Regions from separate parts of the Homo sapiens genome. Here regions 2 and 3 are each linked to region 1. The links come from fine-mapping of genetic effects on gene expression. A gene starts in region 1. Each other region holds a variant in brackets. All regions are shown on one strand. Distances are between the middles of the regions. Region 1 holds the start of TYMP (thymidine phosphorylase). Region 2 overlaps PPP6R2 (protein phosphatase 6 regulatory subunit 2). Region 3 overlaps LOC107985568 (a long non-coding RNA gene).

What was found. PIP is the estimated chance that this variant, and not a neighbour inherited with it, causes the effect. A credible set is the group of variants that fine-mapping cannot tell apart.
Region 2: its variant is the best candidate, but not a certain one, in a credible set for the expression of TYMP in neutrophils (BLUEPRINT, PIP 0.75).
Region 3: its variant is the best candidate, but not a certain one, in a credible set for the expression of TYMP in whole blood (TOPMed, PIP 0.84).

What each region holds. Positions count from the first base shown.
Region 1 is chr22:50,526,823-50,532,096 of GRCh38, reverse strand. TYMP (thymidine phosphorylase) reads left to right here and starts at 2,085. Exons shown (of 10, transcript NM_001953.5): 1 at 2,085-2,193; 2 at 2,378-2,601; 3 at 2,759-2,961; 4 at 3,487-3,585; 5 at 4,380-4,509; 6 at 4,814-4,932. The coding sequence starts at 2,388. CIMAP1B (ciliary microtubule associated protein 1B) reads left to right here. Exons shown (of 7, transcript NM_001014440.4): 2 at 1-128; 3 at 324-527; 4 at 802-906; 5 at 1,039-1,160; 6 at 1,245-1,385; 7 at 1,537-1,671. The coding sequence starts at 20. The coding sequence ends at 1,617. RefSeq lists silencers at 78-287, 368-527, 878-987, 1,148-1,377, 1,388-2,237 and 2 more and enhancers at 660-1,165, 2,678-2,837, 4,558-4,707, 4,728-4,927, 4,718-5,274 and 1 more.
Region 2 is chr22:50,410,039-50,416,462 of GRCh38, reverse strand. PPP6R2 (protein phosphatase 6 regulatory subunit 2) reads right to left here. Exons shown (of 24, transcript NM_001242898.2): 5 at 1,774-1,911; 6 at 306-371. Among named protein-coding and RNA genes, the nearest start is that of MIR12114, 5.8 kb to the right of the region's middle. The variant G/AG (reference allele first, on the strand shown) is at 3,508.
Region 3 is chr22:50,563,526-50,569,395 of GRCh38, reverse strand. It overlaps LOC107985568 (a long non-coding RNA gene), which reads right to left. Exons shown (of 2, transcript XR_001755606.3): 1 at 5,829-5,870; 2 at 253-789. It overlaps CPT1B (carnitine palmitoyltransferase 1B), which reads left to right. Exons shown (of 20, transcript NM_152246.3): 19 at 1-60; 20 at 315-535. The coding sequence ends at 58. CHKB-CPT1B (CHKB-CPT1B readthrough (NMD candidate)) reads left to right here. Exons shown (of 30, transcript NR_027928.2): 29 at 1-229; 30 at 315-535. Among named protein-coding and RNA genes, the nearest start is that of SYCE3, 3.5 kb to the right of the region's middle. The variant G/A (reference allele first, on the strand shown) is at 3,223.

The DNA of each region.
Region 1 (5,274 bases):
AGCGCCCCCCACCCGCGCTATGGGCTCGGACGCCTGGGTGGGCCTTTGGCGGCCACACCGGCCCCGCGGCCCCATCGCGGCGCACTACGGAGGCCCCGGGCCCAAATACAAGCTGCCGCCCAACACCGGTAGAAGGGGCAGGCCCCGGGATTGAGGGGTGGGACGGCGCCTGGGGGAGGGAAGGGGAAGAGACCAGGGAGGCCTGCGCTCGGGGCTGAACCGTGCCTGCTAGAGGGGAGAGGGGGTCTGTGCCGGGGGAGGGTCCGTGTTGCAGATGGGGCTTGGGGCTGGGCCCGGCCAGACGCTAACTCGGATGCTCCCAGGCTACGCCCTGCATGACCCGTCGCGGCCGCGCGCCCCCGCCTTCACCTTCGGCGCGCGCTTCCCCACGCAGCAGACGACGTGCGGCCCCGGGCCAGGCCACCTGGTGCCCGCTCGCATGACCGTGCGCGGCACCGACGGCGCCCCCGCCTACTCCATCTACGGCCGCCCACGCCGCTCAGCGCCCTTCCTCACTCCGGGACCTGGTCAGGACCCCCGGGCCCCTGGCCACCCCAACGCCGAACTGCCTCCAGGGAGGCCCACCTGGGAACCCCCGACCTGAACCCCGAGTCCCCCTCGGATACCCTAACACCGCATATTCGGTACCCCCATATCCGGATCTCAAATCCCAAACCCCGAACCCCACGGGGCTTTGATAAATCGTGGCTCAGACTCCCCACTAGTCCCAGGACCCCATCTCGGGTACCCACCAGGCTCCCACGCAGTTCTAGCCCCCCACACCCTTGATCCGCCCCGCAGGCAGGTACTTCCCGGAGCGAGCGGGGAACGCGACGTACCCCAGTGCGCCTCGGCACACCATTGCTCCCCGAAACTGGGGTGTCCAGGCGGAACAGCAGAGCCCAGGTGAGGTCAGAACGGCCCATCCCAGAACTGTGGGCCTTCCCACTCGAGACCGGGGACCGCCCTCCGGGAGCTGGGACCACCCTGCGCCTGTCCGCGGAGACCCACTACCCCCGAGCCCTGCCTCCTCCCCAGGTCCCGCGGCCTATACGGTGCCCTCGCTCTTGGGTCCGCGCGTCATCGGCAAAGTCTCCGCCCCAACTTGCTCCATCTACGGCCGCAGAGCGGCTGGCAGTTTCTTCGAGGACCTCAGCAAGGTGGGGGAGGGGCCGGGGCGGACGCAGGGGGTCCCTGGTCCGCGGCAGTGGAGGCGGCAGCCAGCACCCTCTGCCCTCTCGCAGACCCCGGGCCCCTGCGCCTATCAGGTCGTGAGTCCAGGGGTCTACAAGTCCCGGGCCCCCCAGTTCACGATTCTGGCGCGGACTTCGCTCCCCCAAGACAACACTCGGAAGCCAGGGCCCGCGGCCTACAACGTGGATCAGGTGGCCTGGAGCCCAGGGTCAAGGGTCAGAGTCAGGAGAGTGGGGAGGGCCTGAGGTCGGAGTGATGGGATCAGAGTCCCCGGGGGTCCAGGGGTCCCGGCGCGGAGAGGATGCCGGCCCCGCGAGGTCAGCGGTGTCTCCGGGCCCGCAGCACCGGAAGCCCCGCGGCTGGAGTTTCGGGATCCGGCACTCGGACTACCTGGCCCCGCTGGTGACCGACGCGGACAACTGACCCGCCAGGCGGGAGCGGCCCCACACGTGTTTGCTTAAAGTCTGCGAGTCCGCATCGTGTCCGCCTCTCTCTCTCTCTCTCTGCGCGTCCTGGCGCAAGGCCTGGGGTGGAGCCACGGCTGGGGCCGTGTCCCAACTCCGAACCCAGCGGGGCGGGGCCCGAGCGTCGGGCGAGGCCGGGACCCCAGCGCTGCGCCGCGTCCGAACGTCGAGACCCCACCGAGGGCGGGAGGGGGACTCTCGGGAGCCACAGACGCCCGAGACCCACGCCGGGCGGGACCGGCCAGGGATCACCCCCGCCGACGGCCCCGGGCCCCGACGGCCCGGAAGTTCCGCGTGTCCGGGGGCACCGGGGGATTGGCCGGGGCGCGGCGTGCAAGGCTTCCCGGGGGCGGCGACTGCCGAGCTCCGCCCTCCAGGCGGCCCCACCCGCCTGCCGTCCTGGGGCGCCGCCGCCCCGCCGCCGGCAGTGGACCGCTGTGCGCGAACCCTGAACCCTACGGTCCCGACCCGCGGGCGAGGCCGGGTACCTGGGCTGGGATCCGGAGCAAGCGGGCGAGGGCAGCGCCCTAAGCAGGTACGGGCGGGGCTCAAGTCGCGAGGCGGGGAAGCGGGAGGCAGACACGGACGAGGGCGACACAGACACGGGACCGAGGGGCGGACACCGGAGAGACACGGGAAAGGGGTCGGGACAGGAGCACGTGGCTCAGACACCGACGCCGGGAGGCCGCAGACCCCGGACGTGTCAGGCATCCCCGCAGGCCCGGAGCGATGGCAGCCTTGATGACCCCGGGAACCGGGGCCCCACCCGCGCCTGGTGACTTCTCCGGGGAAGGGAGCCAGGGACTTCCCGACCCTTCGCCAGAGCCCAAGCAGCTCCCGGAGCTGATCCGCATGAAGCGAGACGGAGGCCGCCTGAGCGAAGCGGACATCAGGGGCTTCGTGGCCGCTGTGGTGAATGGGAGCGCGCAGGGCGCACAGATCGGTGCGTGGGGAGGGTTGGGCGTTCCTGACCCCGACTGGGAGGTCAGCCCGAGAGACTTTGGGTCCCTGGGGGTGCGACGGTGCCCCACTACCAGCACCGGCCCCAGGGTGCCCCACCGCTGTGGGCTGCCACCCTCACGCGTACCCCCACATACCAGGGGCCATGCTGATGGCCATCCGACTTCGGGGCATGGATCTGGAGGAGACCTCGGTGCTGACCCAGGCCCTGGCTCAGTCGGGACAGCAGCTGGAGTGGCCAGAGGCCTGGCGCCAGCAGCTTGTGGACAAGCATTCCACAGGGGGTGTGGGTGACAAGGTCAGCCTGGTCCTCGCACCTGCCCTGGCGGCATGTGGCTGCAAGGTTAGAAACCACCTCCTTTCCAGACGGGAGCCTATACCGCACATGCAGCAACCAGTCCATCCACAGGCAGCTCCCAACCTCAAGCCTGGCCCAAAGCCTCCAAGACCCTACCAAGGCTTCTCCCCACCCTGCTCCCCAGCACAGTTCTCCCCACCCCGTTCCCCAGCACAGCGCTTGGGGCCCCTCTGGCTCCAGACCAGGCCCCTTGGAGCAGGAAAAAGATCCACTGATGGAATTCAGACCCCTTTCCCCTTGGGTCCCCAGACAGCTCCCCCAAGGGAGGAGCTGAGGACTTTCCTCCCTCTGCCCCAAGCCTTGTTTCCCCAAGGACAGGTACCAACCTCCTCCCCTACTGACACTTCTCAACCAAGAAAACTTCCTTTCCATTCCCTCACCAGCTGGGCACCCCTATAGCTGCTTAAATACTTTCCAAATCCAGCTGCACTCCTAGCCAGGGAAGGTGAAGGGATGCACAGAGGTGGGGGAGGGGTACTGTGCAGGGTACTCAGCATCCCTGACCACCAGGTGCCAATGATCAGCGGACGTGGTCTGGGGCACACAGGAGGCACCTTGGATAAGCTGGAGTCTATTCCTGGATTCAATGTCATCCAGAGCCCAGAGCAGGTACGGGGCGCCACGGATCAGTCATTAATCCAGGTTGATGATGGAGACCCTGGCCAGAATCACTAAAAGATCACTGGTGGATCATTAGGGTCACTAATGAGAACACTGGTCAAGGTTACTCATGAGTCACTGGGCCTGGGCCGAAATCATCAGTGGAACTTTGATTAGGATCATAAAATGGGAAGTTGGTCAAAATCACAGATGGCTGGCGGGGCACGGTGGCTCACACCTGTAGTCCTAGCACTTGGGGAGGCCGAAGAGGGCAGATCCCTTGAACCCAGGAGTTCAAAACCAGCCTGGATAACACGGCAAAACCCCATCTCTACAAAATAGTTCGCTGCGTGTGGTGGTGCACGCATGTGGTTCCAGCTACTCAGGAGGCTGAGGCAGGAGGATCACTTGAGCCTGGGAGGTCTAGGCTGCAGTGAGCCGGGACGATGCCACTGCACTCCAGCCTGGGCAACAGAGTGAGACCCTGTCCCAGCACTCTGGGAGGCAGAGGAGCCCAGTTGGAGATCAGCCTGGGTAATATAGTGAAACTTGATCTCTACAAAAAAAAGAAGAAAAAAAAAAGCCGCGTGTGGTGGTGCGCACCTGTAGTCCCAGCTACTGGGAAGCTGAGGTGGGAGGATCACTTAAGCCCAGGAGGCAGAGGTCACAATGAGCCGAAATTGTGCCAACTGCACTCCAGCCTGGGCAACAGAGGAAGACTCTTCACAGAAAAAAAAAAAAAAAAAAAAAAAGCTGCTAAGTCATTTACCATAAGTCACTGAGAACAGGGGATGTCTGACCAGATGCAAGTGCTGCTGGACCAGGCGGGCTGCTGTATCGTGGGTCAGAGTGAGCAGCTGGTTCCTGCGGACGGAATCCTATATGCAGCCAGAGATGTGACAGCCACCGTGGACAGCCTGCCACTCATCACAGGTGACCTGACTCCATGGCCTGCTTCTGCATGTTCACAGGCTCCTGACCTCCAAACTCAAGTCAAGGGCCTCTCGTTAGGAGTTACCCGTCACCTGACCGTGTGCCCCCCTACCCCCATCACAAGATGCCTGACCACCACCATGTGGGGTGGCCTGATACTCAACCCACCAGGTGCTGCCACCCCCATAATAAGGGACTTGACCCTCAATGCTCAGGGCCCCTGACCCCAAAGTCGGCATCCCCGAACTCTCCCAAGAAGCTCCAGGTTCTCCATTGTCTCCAACCTCCTCTGCCTCCCCCAAAGCCTCCATTCTCAGTAAGAAACTCGTGGAGGGGCTGTCCGCTCTGGTGGTGGACGTTAAGTTCGGAGGGGCCGCCGTCTTCCCCAACCAGGAGCAGGCCCGGGAGCTGGCAAAGACGCTGGTGAGCGGTGTGGCCTTTCCCTGGGCAAGCGTCTTGATGCGGGCCCAGCCTACCCTTCACCCCTCCCGTCCCCACTGCCTCCCTCCACTCAGCAGTCCTGCCTAACCCCAGTCCCACCCTCTTCTGCCCGAAGTCCCTCCCTCCTTCACGGCTTCCTAACCTGCTGTGACTTTAGAGGTCAAGGCTGGCCCGGCCTGGACCTGGGGAAGCCCTCTGTGGCGTTCCTGCCCCAGACCAAGTACAAGTTCCTCCTGGCCCCATGGCGAGGTGTCGCACTTCACTCGTGTCTCTTCCCCACCCCAATCCTTCCCTGACTTCATGCTGGGGGGCTGGCAACCCAGG
Region 2 (6,424 bases), 120 kb after region 1:
TGGCTCACCCGACTGGGTGAGCAGGAGAATTGCTTGAACCCAAGAGGCGGAGGTTGTGGTGAGCCGAGATTGCACCACTGCACTCCAGCCCAGGCAACAAGAGCGAAACGCCATCTCAAAAAAAAAAAGAAAAAAAAAATCCAGCCTAGAAGTCAGTGCTTGATTAAAGAAAGAAAAGTACCTAACCGATCCTCATCTTAGGAAAGGGATGACTTGCCCTCCCTCGCCCCCTGGCCCGCAGCAGTGGGTGACCTGGCAGCACAGGCCTGGACTGATGCACGAAGCTCGGTAAGCAGCACACTCACATCTTCATCCTGGCTCGGGTGGATCAACTCCACAAGCCTCTGGATGACCTTCTCTTCATTCAGCCACTGAAAGAGAAAAAGAGGCCTTTCAGTGTCGCTGCTCAAGTCTAAGTAAACAACAGGAACCTTTCCCCTTTGGTGCAGCACTGCACCCGTTTTCTAGAATATAGACTCTTTGCCTGACACACCCCAGACCCAGAAAGAACACACATAACACACAATGACTGAGTTCTGGGAGGTTCTGGGAGTGGCTCAAAAGATGATAAAGGATGACCACCATCCCTCTGTCCTAATGGTGCGTATGTAAGCTCTGTCTTCAGGACTTCTCTCTTAAGGACCAGGGTGCAAATGAGCCACACAAGCTATAGCTCAGGAGCCCCGCTGGATGCTGAAGCCAGAGAAGCCTCAGCTGTTCCCTGCAGCACTGGGGCCTTCCCATGTTGAGGAAGAGTAACTCCACCCTGGAGAGGCTACACGAACACTGTGGGGTAAAGCTCAAGGGCAACGGGGGCCCAGTGTGAGTGTCGGGGTCTGGCAGGCCTGGGCCGTACCTGGCTACCGCACCGCACTGCTGCGCCCTGTGCCTAAATTCCTTATCCAAAAATGGGATGAGCTGTCCCCCCGTGGCTACTTCGTGAAGTGAATCAAGTAAAGCAGCTAAAAGGCTGCCTGACGTACAGTTCTGCAGGCTTCCCACTAACGGCTATGACCACAGCTAGTACTGATCCTGTGTCCACTGTGTAAAGGTTGGTGGCGGTCAGTCATTCCTGGTGAGAAGCTCCTCCCTGAGGAAGCATTACTAACCTAAGAGTGAGAGTGGTCATCGGATGAGTCCTGATTCCAGGAGCTGGGAAACAGGCAGAGCGCCTCAGGGTTTACTCTACTCTATTTTAAACTTCACCACAAACAAAGCTGGCCGAACAGTGAGCAGAAGTTTGTCAGCACGGATTTCCTGGGCTTATCTGGGGGGCATCCTCCTCTTTTCGGGAACTGTAGCACCTGTTCTCACTGACTAAACACCATCAGAACAGACGCATCCACACTCCAGGGTAAACAACGGGGCTCTGCAGGGAACTGCTGTCCACCGGGGCTCTCCTGGCAGGCACAGGCCTGGACGCAGGGCTAGCACCTCACTGACCTCCTGCTCTAAGCCACAGGGGTGGGCGCTGGCAGGGGAAAAGGAGGCAGGCGAGGAAAGTCCATTTCGGCCTCTTCACAGAGCCGGAGGCTGGAGACTGCGGGGAGAAGGGACCTCTCTGCTCTGTGCTTCTGAGCGAGTTAAGTCGGGACAGTGGAAAAGGTACAGGCCACAATCCTTGACAAGAACCCCTAACAGCCCCACGGAGAAATGCACGCTAGGTGGAGAGATGGGGGCCGGGCGCCCTGGTGCTCTGAGCTCCTGCACTTAACCAGCTGGCTTCCTGCAGCACCCCTGCCCTCGGGAACGGGGGGGGACTCCCGCACTCACGTGCAGGACGTCCTGCCGGAGCCCGGCTGGCTCCACACAGCTGACCAGGCGCAGCAGCAGGTCCATAAGCGCTGAGGTGCCGATGTGCTTCAACACCAGGCTGATGAACTTGTCCTTCTTCTTCAAAAACGTAATCACCTGAAATCACACACACCTGAGAGGCAGGCGGGGCCGACCCTGACAACCCTGAGACACCTCCTCCAAAAACTCTCATGGGAAAGTTGAACTAGTAATTATATTAAGCAGAAATAACGGAAAGACCCAGACAAGATTGTAAGAAAGCCCCCTCAAGGGACAGGCAGAGTCCTACCAGGCAGTGGTGTATGTGAGGGTCTGGGCGGGGGGGGGGGGGGGGGGGCCACTGCACAGGGACCCCTGTGGCTCTGCACCGACAGGACACAGCTGTCCCAGGTGGGGCAGCACAGGCTGCCGTGAGCAGCTGCCATCCAATACCTACTGGTTCGGGTTTTTCCAACAGAAACGAATGGTATAGACAGAGCTGAGCTGAGCTGATGGCCATCACTGGCAGCCCCAGGCCTAGAACACACATCCAGGGAGCACAGAGTGCACAAGACGCCAGCTGCTGACCAAAACCCATGAGCGGTTGAAGGGGAAAGAAGACTGAGGTTTTAGAAAAGAAAAAGAGGCATCCTGCAGCTGGCTGATGACCAGTGCCAACAAGGTGTAGACAGCTAAGCGTGAGGCCATGGGGGGGCACAGCACCCATCACAGACGCAGTGGGCTGCTCAGACGGCGGATCCAAGGTAACAGTGGAGAAGTGAAGGCTGGGCTCGCTGCAAATTCAGCTCAACTCAGCCTACAGAAATAAGTGTCTGCTATGTCCAGGCTACTGGGCTGGGGGCTGGGGTAGACCCAGCCCTCCACTGGAAACAATGGGAACACAGAGAAGGCCCACCTGGCTGCAGGGCCTCAGCCTCACTCCCCAGTGCTGCAATGAGGAGGGACAGTAGGAAAAGGAGTGGTGGGAAAAGAGAAGGGGAAGAAGGAAGAGGAGGGGGTAGGGGAGGAGGAGAGGAGGATGGCTCTTTGAAAAGGATGATTAAACTTCTAGAAAGACGAAGGACAAAACAGAAGGTACAAATAACAATATTAAGAATGAAACAAGGGGCATCGCCAAAGATCCTACAGAAATAAAAACTATTATGAGAGGTTTGTAGTTTTGTTTTTATGTTTTTGAGACAAGGTCTTACTCTGTCCCCCAGGCTGGAGTGCAGTGGTGCGATCATAACTCACTGCAGCCTCCACCTTCTGAGCTCAAGTGATTCTCCCACCTCAGCCTCCCAAAATGCTGTAATAATAAGCAGGAGCCACCACACCTGCTATATTATGAGAAATTAATAGAAACAATTTTATGCCAGTTTTTGTAAATTTAGAAAAGAAATTTCCTTGAAAAAAAATACTTATCTGGCCAGGTGCGGTGGCTCACGCCTGTAATCCCAGCACTTTGGGAGGCCGAGGTGGGTGGATCACCTGAGGTCAGACCAGACTGAGGTCGAGACCAGCCTCAACATGGAGGAAACCCCGTCTCTACTAAAAATACAAAATTAGCCAAGCGTGGTGGTGCATGCCTGTAATCCCAGCTACTCGGGAGGCTGAGGCAGAATTGCTTGAACCTGGGAGGCGGAGATTGCGGTAAGCCAAGATCGCACCATTGCACTCCAGCCTGGGCAACAAGAGCAAAACTCTGTCTCAAAAAAAAAAACAAAAAAAAAA[G/AG]GACTTATCTAGGCCAGGCGCAGTGGCTCACACCTGTAATCCCAACACTTTGGGAGGACGAGGCAGGTGGATCACCTGAGGTCAGGAGATCAAGACCATCCTGGCTAACATGGTGAAACCCCGTCTCTACTAAAAATACAAAAAAAATTAGCCGGGCATGGTGGTGGGCACGTGTAATCCCAGCTACTCGGGAGGCTGAGGCAGGAGAATAGCATGAACCCAGGAGGCAGAGCTTGCAGTGAGCCGAGATCACGCCACTGCACTCCAGCCTGGGTGACAGAGCAAGACTCCGTCTCAAAAAAAAAAAAAAAAAAAAAAAAAAAAAGGACTTATTTAAACTGACAAGAAACAAAATCAGAATAGTTCCAGAACATACTAAAACTCCACAAAATCTATAATTAATAGGCTCTCTATACAGAGAAGGTTTAATGGCCTAATAAATTCTTCCAAACATTTAAGAAAAAATAACCCCAGGCTGGGCATGGTGGCTCATGCCTGTAATCCTGGCACTTGAGGGAGGTCAAGGCAGGCGGATCACTTGATCTCAGGAGTTCAAGGCCAGCCTGGCCAACATGGTCTCTACTAAAAATATAAAAATTAGCAAGACGTGGTGGTGGGTGGCTGTAATCCCAGCTACTCGGAATGTTGAGGCATGAGAATTGCTTGAACCCAGGAGGCAGAGGTTGCAGTGAGCCGAGATCACACCACTGCACTCCAGCCTGGGGGATAGAGTGAGAGTCTATCTCCAAAAAAAGAAAAAATAACCTCTATTTTTTTTGAGCCCATAATGATCGATGGATCATATTCACACATTCACATCAATATTCTAGTTGTGATATTCTACTAGTGTTTTAGAAAATGTCACCATTGGAGGAAACATGTCAAAGCATACAAGGATTTTGTTTGTTTTTTTGAGATGCAGTCTCACTCTGGCCCAGGCTGGAGTGCAGTGGCGCAATCTCGGCTCACTGCAAGCTCCGCCTCCTGGGTTCATGCCATTCTCCTGCCTCAGGCTCCCGAGTAGCTGGGACTACAGGCACCCATCACTACGTCCAGCCAATTTTTTGTATTTTTAGTAGAGACAGAGTTTCACCGTGTTAGCCAGGACGGTCTCGATCTCCTGACCTTGTGATCCGCCCGCCTCGGCCTCCCAAAGTGCTGGGATTACAGGCGTGAGCCACTGCGCCAGGCCTTGTTTTTGTTTGAGACAGTCTCCCCTTTGTCGCCCAGGCTGGAGTGCAGAGTCACAATCTCGGCTCACTGCAACCTCCACCCTCGGGTTCAAGTGATTCTCCTGCCTCAGCCTCCTGAGTAGCTGTGATTACAGGTGCCGGCCACCACGCCCAGCTAATTTTTGTATTTTTAGTAGAGACAGGGTTTCACCATGTTGGGCCAGGCTGGTCTCAAACTCCTGACCTCAGATAATCCGCTTGCCTTGGCCTCCCAAAATGCTGGGATTACAGGTGTGAGCCAGCACGCCTGGCCTTTTTTCTTTTTTTTTGGAGACAGAGTCTCGCTCTGTTACCTAGGCTGGAGTGCAGTGGCCCAATCTTGGCTCACTGCAACCTCCGCCTTCAGGTTCAAGTGATTCTCCTGTCTCAGCCCCACCAAGGAGCTGGGATTACAGGCGTGTGCCACCACACCCAGCTAATTTTTATATTTTTAGTAGAGACGGGGTTTCGGCATGTTGGCCAGGCTGCTCTCAAACTCATGGGCTCAAGTGATCCACTCACCTCGGCCTCCCAAAGTGTTGGGTGGAGTGAGCCACTGCTCCTGGCCAAGGATTTTCTTCATATTATTTCATACAACCTCATGTAAATACAGTAATCTCAGTCAAAATTTCAATTAAAAAGATACCATTTAAAGGCCGGGTGTGGGGGCTCACACCTGTAATCCCAGCATTTTGGGAGGCCAAGGCCGGTGGATCACCTGAGGTCAGGAGTTCAAGACTGCCTTGCCAACATGGTGAAACCCCATCTCTACTAAAAATACAAAAATTAGCGGGTCATGGGGGCAGGCACCTGTAATCCTGGCTACGCGGGAGGCTGAGGCAGGAGAATCACTTGAACCAGGGGGCGGAGGTTGCAGTGAGCCGAGATTGTGCCCCTGCACTCCAGCCTGGGAGACAAAAGGGAGACTTTGTCTCAAACGAAAACAAAAACAAAATCCTTGTATGCTTTGACATGTTTCCTCCAATTGTGACATTTTCTAAAACACCAGTATAATATCACAACTAGAATACTGATGTATGTGAATATGATACATTGATCATTATGGGCTTGAAAAAAATAAGAGGTTCTTTTTTCTTTTTTTTGGAGACAGAATCTCACTCTATCCCCCAGACGGGAGGCTGAGGCACGAGAATCCATGAGAATCGCTTGAACCCAGGAGGTGGAGGTTGCAGTGAGCCAAGATTGCGCCACTGCACTCCAGCCTGGACGACAGAGCAAGACTCCGTCTCAAAAAAAAAAAAAAAAAAAAAAAAAGACACCACTCAAAATAATACAAAGATATCAAATACCTAAGAATAAATCTAGTGAAAGATGCTTAAGACTGCCATACAGAGAACTGCAGTGTATTTCTGAGAAATCAAAGTAGCCTGAGCTACCAGCTGTGCTGCTGTGGTGTGAAAGGAGCCCCGGGCAGCGTGCACAGGAATGGAAGTGGCTGTGCTACACTAAGACCTCACTCACACAATCAGTGATGGCTGCTTTTGGCCTGTGGACCACAGTTTGTCAGACCCAACTACAGCCAATGCAAACCTCATCAAAATTTCAGTAGGTTTATTTTTGGGGGGCAGGGTATGGAGAGGGAGAATGTAGAAAGTGACAAACTCATTCTAAAATTTGCTTATTCTAAAACAATAAAAAAGAGAAAGCAAAAATTAAAAAATAGAAAAGAAAAAAAATAAAAACAA
Region 3 (5,870 bases), 37 kb before region 1:
CCGCAAAGCCCTGCTGGACATTGCTGATCTTTTCCAAGTTCCCAAGGCCTACAGCTGAAGGTTGGAGAAATGCCAGCTGCCCTTTCGTCCCCACACTGTGGAGGAAGGGACCTGTGGCAGCTCACAGGCATGAGGGGTGGCCGTGCACAGGTGCCCAGGCTCCAAGGACAGCTCCGGCAGCAGGTCCTCGCTGGGCAGATGCTGCTCCCTGAGGGCCCAGGTGGTGGAGGTGGGGTTGGAGCAGGAAGGGAATTTTGATTTTTTTTTTTCTTGATAGATACTAATAAAAATAAGGCTGTGTAATTTTCTCTCAGCCCTTAGGTACCTGTGTTTTGTTTGGGAACTCGGAGGCCCTCCCCCTCCCCCAGCTCAGACCACAGAGGTGGCAAGAGAAGGGCTGAAGCTGGAAGACTGTTCATGAGGGACTTGTGTGACCTGCTTTGAAATGTGTGACTCTGCTGAGTGACGTAGGCTCTGAGATAGCTGTCCACGCCCACGTGTTTGCTTGGAATAAATACTTGCCTCAGAACCTTCACCTGTTCCCTGGGGCCATTTCTGTTTGTCTGTCTGCTGGAGAGTGAGCCCACCTCCTCCCATGCAGGGGCATGTGTGAGGCACCCCTCTTGGCTGAGGCACAACCCTGCACGGGCCCCGCAGCTTCTTGTCAGCATGGAAAGGGGCTGCAGGCCCAGGCCTGAAGTCTTGAGGCGCCAGGTGGTCATGTCTGCAAGAGGGCACGCAGGATGACCTGTAGCAACAGACACTCCTTCACTGAGGTTGGCTCGGCTGCTAAAATCATGTTAAGAGTAAATACAAAATAATTATTCTTTGTTTTTAAGGCGGAGTTTCGCTCTTGTTGCCCAGGCTGGAGTGCAGTGGCACGATCTCGACTCACTACAACCTCTGCCTCCTGGGTTCAAGCGATTCTCGTACCTCAGCTCCTGAGTAGCTGGGACAACAGGCGCCCGCCATCACGCCCGGCTAATTTTTTGTATTTTTAGTAGAGGCAGGGTTTTACCATGTTGGCCAGGCTGGTCTCGAATTCCTGACCTCAGGTGATCCACCTGCCTCAGCCTCCCAACGTGCAGGGATTATAGGTGTGAGCCACCGCACCCAGCCATAAAAAATAATTTTTATGAAAAGTATAAGTAGGCCCTCAATTACTGTAATTGAAGTGAATTAGATTCAGTTCTGGACCTTCATTTAGGAACCAGTGTCTTCATCTGTTTTTGTTTTTTTCTTTTTTTTCCCATGAGATAGGGTCTCACTATGTTGCCCAGGCTGGTCTCGAACTCCTGAGCTTAAGTGATCCTCCCACCTCGACTTTCCAAAGTGCTAGGATTTCAGGCGTGAGCCACCGTGCCCGGCCAGGAACCAGTGTCTGTTGAACACCCACCATAGACTTGGCCCTGTGCTGGGGATTCAGTGGTAAACAAGGTCCTATTCCTGCCCATGTCGAATTCACTGCTGGGTGAGGCAGGTGTGGTCAGGGGACAGAGCAGCTGGCAGGAAACCAGGAGGCTTTTGGGATAATCCACTTACCAAGTACAGGCATGGGTTGCTTAATGAAGGGGATACATTCTGAGAAGTGCATTGTTAGGCGATTTTGTTGTGCAAAGATTCTAGAGTGCATTTACACAAAGGTAGATGGTGCAGCCTACTACAGACCTGGGCTATGCTGCTTACCCTGTTGCTCCTAGGCCGCATGCCTTTACAACATGTTACCATACTGAATACTGTAGGCAACTGTAATACAATGGGAAGTCTTTGTGTATCTAAACTTGTCTAAACATAGAAAAGGTATAGTAAAAATGTTATATAAAAGATTAAAAATGGCACCCTTATGGCCAGGTGCAGTGGCTCACGCCTGTGATCCCAGCACCTTGGGAGGCCGAGGCAGGTGGATCACGAGGTCAGAAGATCGAGACCATCCTGGCTAACACGGTGAAACAGTGTCTCTACTAAACAAAATACAAAAACTAGCCAGGCATGGTGGCGGGCGCCCGTAGTCCTAGCTGCTTGGGAGGCTGAGGCAGGAGGATGGCGTGAACCCAGGAGGCGGAGCTTGCACTGAGCCAAGATGGCACCACTGCACTCCAGCCTGGGCAACAGAGCGAGACTCCGTCTCAAAAAAAAAAAAAATGGTACCCTTATATAAGACACTTATAAGACACCATGGGCTGGGCGCAGTGGCTCACGCTTGTAATCTCAGCACTTTGGGAGGCCAAGGCAGGTGGATCACAAGGTCAGGAGATCAAGACCACGGTGAAACCCTGTCTCTACTAAAAATACAAAAAATTAGCCAGGTGTGGTGGTGGGTGCTTGTAGTCCCAGCTACTGGGAGAGGCTGAGGCAGGAGAATGGCGTGAACCTGGGAGGTGGAGCTTGCAGTGAGCCAAGATCGCGCCACTGCACTCCAGCCTGGGCGACAGAGCAAGACTCCGTCTCAAAAAAAAAAAAAGAGGAAAAGTAAGTGGAGAGACAAAAGGAGAGGTGGGTGGCAATTTCAGACAGTGGCAAAAGCAAGCCTTCCTGATTGGGGTCCTTTGACCACAGGCCTGAAGGAGACGAGGAGCAAGTCATGTCCCTCATGTCCCTCATGTTCCGTACCTAAGGGCAGAGTATTCCTGGCTGAAGGAACAGCAAGAGCCAAAGCTTTGCGAGCGGTGTCTGCTGTGATGAAGGATGTGGCTAGTGTGGAGTCAGGGATGGGAAGAGCAAGCGGGGCAGCTAGATCGGGGTAACAAGGGCCTCGTAGGCCAGATTCTGGATTTTCTGAATGACGGGGGAAGCTGTTGGGCTTTGAACAGAGGGTGGCATAATCTGTCCTAATTTTAAGGGATCACTGGCTAACCAGGGTGGCGTTAGAACAAAGTAGGACGCAGTAACAGTGGAAGCAAGGAGACCCGCTGGAGAAGTGCTCCTGGTGGTGGTGGAGCTGGAAGAAATGAGCGGCTTAAACTAAGGCAGTGCCATAGGAAAGTAGAATTAAGGAGCTTGGAATGTCAAACGTAGGACTGACAAGTCTAATCAGGAGGAATCAAAGATAACTCATATTTTCTATATTGGGTGATTGGGTGATTAAATTAGGTCTTTAAATGTTGAATTTGACTTGCCTATAAGAAATAGCTGTGAAAATGTCTCAGACTCTTGAAAATATAAATGAAAAGCTAAGGAGAGATCTAGGCTCCTTCTAACAGTTTTGAAGACAGTTAAAACCTT[G/A]AAAGTGCATGAGAGGATTCCCAGGGCAGAGGCTCCTCACCTCCTTCAAGTCTTCATGAGCTATAAGAGTATGCCTCTTGGGGCCGGGCGCGGTGGCTCACACCTGTAATCCCAGCACTTTGGGAGGCCGAGGCGGGCAGATCACGAGGTCAGGAGATCGAGACCATCCTGGCTAATACAGCAAAACCCTGCCTCTACTAAAAATACAAAAATTAGCCGGGTGTGGTGGCACGTGCCTGTAGTCCCAGCTACTCAGGAGGCTGAGGCAGGAGAATCGCTTGAACCCAGGAGATGGAGGTTGCAGTGAGCTAAGATGGTGCCACTGTACTCCAGCCTGGGAGACCGAGACTCTGTCTCAAAAAAAAAAAAAAAAAAAGAGTACACCTCTGCCTGCAAAATGTTACATTCCATATCAGAGCGTTCTTCAGCTTCCAAAAGTATTTCCAGAGACCTCTACCTGTTTGGGTGCCAGTAAGCCTCCCCTGGGAAGGTGCCTGCGTTTTGGTAGTCTTCTGGGGACATCAGCTCACCCCGTCCTGAGATAGCAGTAAACAGAGTTTCCAACAAGCTAGCTTTCAATTAACATCAAAATTCAGCATTAAAGTTCTTTTATCTCATTTGTTCTGGGTTAAAATAGTGAGATGAGGAACAACAGTGGTAAACCAGGGTATAAACCTCTGGAGACTGCTGGGCATGGTAGCTCACGCCTGTAATGCCTGTGCTTTGGGAGGTCTTGAGCCCAGGAGTTCGAGACCAGCCTGGGTGGTGCAGTGAGACCCCATCTCTACAAAATTAAAAAAAAAAAATTAGCCAGGCGTGGTGGCACTTGCCTGTGGCCCCAGCTACTCTGGAGGCTGAGTTGGGAGGATTACTTGAGCCTGAGAGATTGAGGCTGCAGTGAGCCATGATTGACCCACTGCATTCCAGCCTAGGTGACAGAGCAACACCCTGTCTTAAAAAAATAAATAAACCTCTGATGACAACCCAAACCCCAATTAGTTCCCCATGTCCCATAGGTCTGCAGGTCTGCATTAATAAAAGCTAGCAGCCATAACATAAATCCTGAAACCTCATGGCTCAACCCAATAGAAGCTGGACTGTTGGTCAGATAAAATCCAGTTGGCTGAGATGAGGGCTCTGCTCCATACTGTTATTCAAGGATCTATGGTGACAGAGGCCCTGCCTTCAGCAGGTAGTACTCAAGCTGCCTTGGGCATCAACATCATAAGTACGTGGGGAGAGAAAGAGGGGGCCACCTGTGGGAGGCTTTGATGGCCTCAACCTCAAAGTGATACACAGCATTTCCCTCCACACCCTCTGGCTAAAGACTTGTATTTCAAGAGAATCTGAGAAGTAGAGTCTAGCTGTGTGTCCAGGGCGTAAAGGAAACATTTAGTGACAGTTGGTCTCAGATACACAAGGGCATGGGAAGACCAGCCTGACATCTTCCTGGGCTTCATGGCCTGGAGTTTGCAGGGTAGCCCACCTCCAGCTCCTGAGCAGGGTACTCAAGAGCCTGCACATTCCAGCTCAACTGATCTTTCCCGAGTCTTCTCTGTCCCTTACCAAGAACCCTGAGCCCAGAACACACTCGCCATTCCCCAAAGGAGGCAGGCTGAGCCACACCTTCGCCTTTGCCCTAGATGGGCCTTCTGCCTGGAATCCTGTGCCCTTTCTCCTACTCTCTCGGAAGCTGTCTTCCTTAGCCATCAGAATTATTCCTGATTCGGGCCAAGCACAGTGGCTCACACCTGTAATCCCAGCACTTTGGGAGTCCGAGGCGGGTGGATCACCTGAGGACAGGAGTTCGAGACCAGCCTGGCCAACATAGCGAAACCCGGTCTCTACTAAAAATACAAAAACTAGCTGGGCGTTGTGGCATGTGCTTGTAATCCCAGCTACTAGGGAGGCTGAGGCAGGAGAATCACTTGAACCTGGGAGGCGGAGGTTGCAGTGAGCCGAGATCGTGCCACTGCACTCCAGCCTGGGCAACAGAGCAAGACTCCGTCTCAAAAAAAAAAAAAAAGAATTATTCCCTATTCATGTTTCTCTGGGCTGCTGTAACAGAAATCGGCTCTGGGCTGTATAAGCAAATGGAAGTATGAAGAGCAGCTCACAGGTGGAAAGGGATGGCCAGAAAACCGGGTTCAACCGGGGCAGGAACCTGGCAGCTGGCGGAGGGAGTGTGGCCCAGGCAGCAGCCTCCTCAATAAACAAGCGAATGCTCACTCCTTGCCCAGAACTGTCTGGCTCAACCCCAGCCATTTTTCCTCCTCTGCAATCAGGCTGCTAAGAATCAGAATCCCTGAGAGAAAATTCAGGGGGTCTAAGGTTTGTCAGGATTCTCAAACACAAGGTGTTCAAAATCAAAGTTAACCTTCCAAGCTAGCTTCTCCCACTCTTCCACATCTCTGCCAGTGGTATCACCCCGGCCATTAGCCCCTTGCTTCTTTCTCCCTCCCTCCCACATTACCAAGCCCTGTCAAGTCGACCTTGGAATGGCTTTGACCCTGTCCACCACTCAGCCAAACAACAGCAACGGCCGGCCCCGTCGCCACCCGCCTCGGCAGCCAGAGACCTTTTAACTCTGCCACTCGCCTACTTACCACCCTTCTAGGGTGCCCACGTCCCTCTGAAAAAAAAGGCTG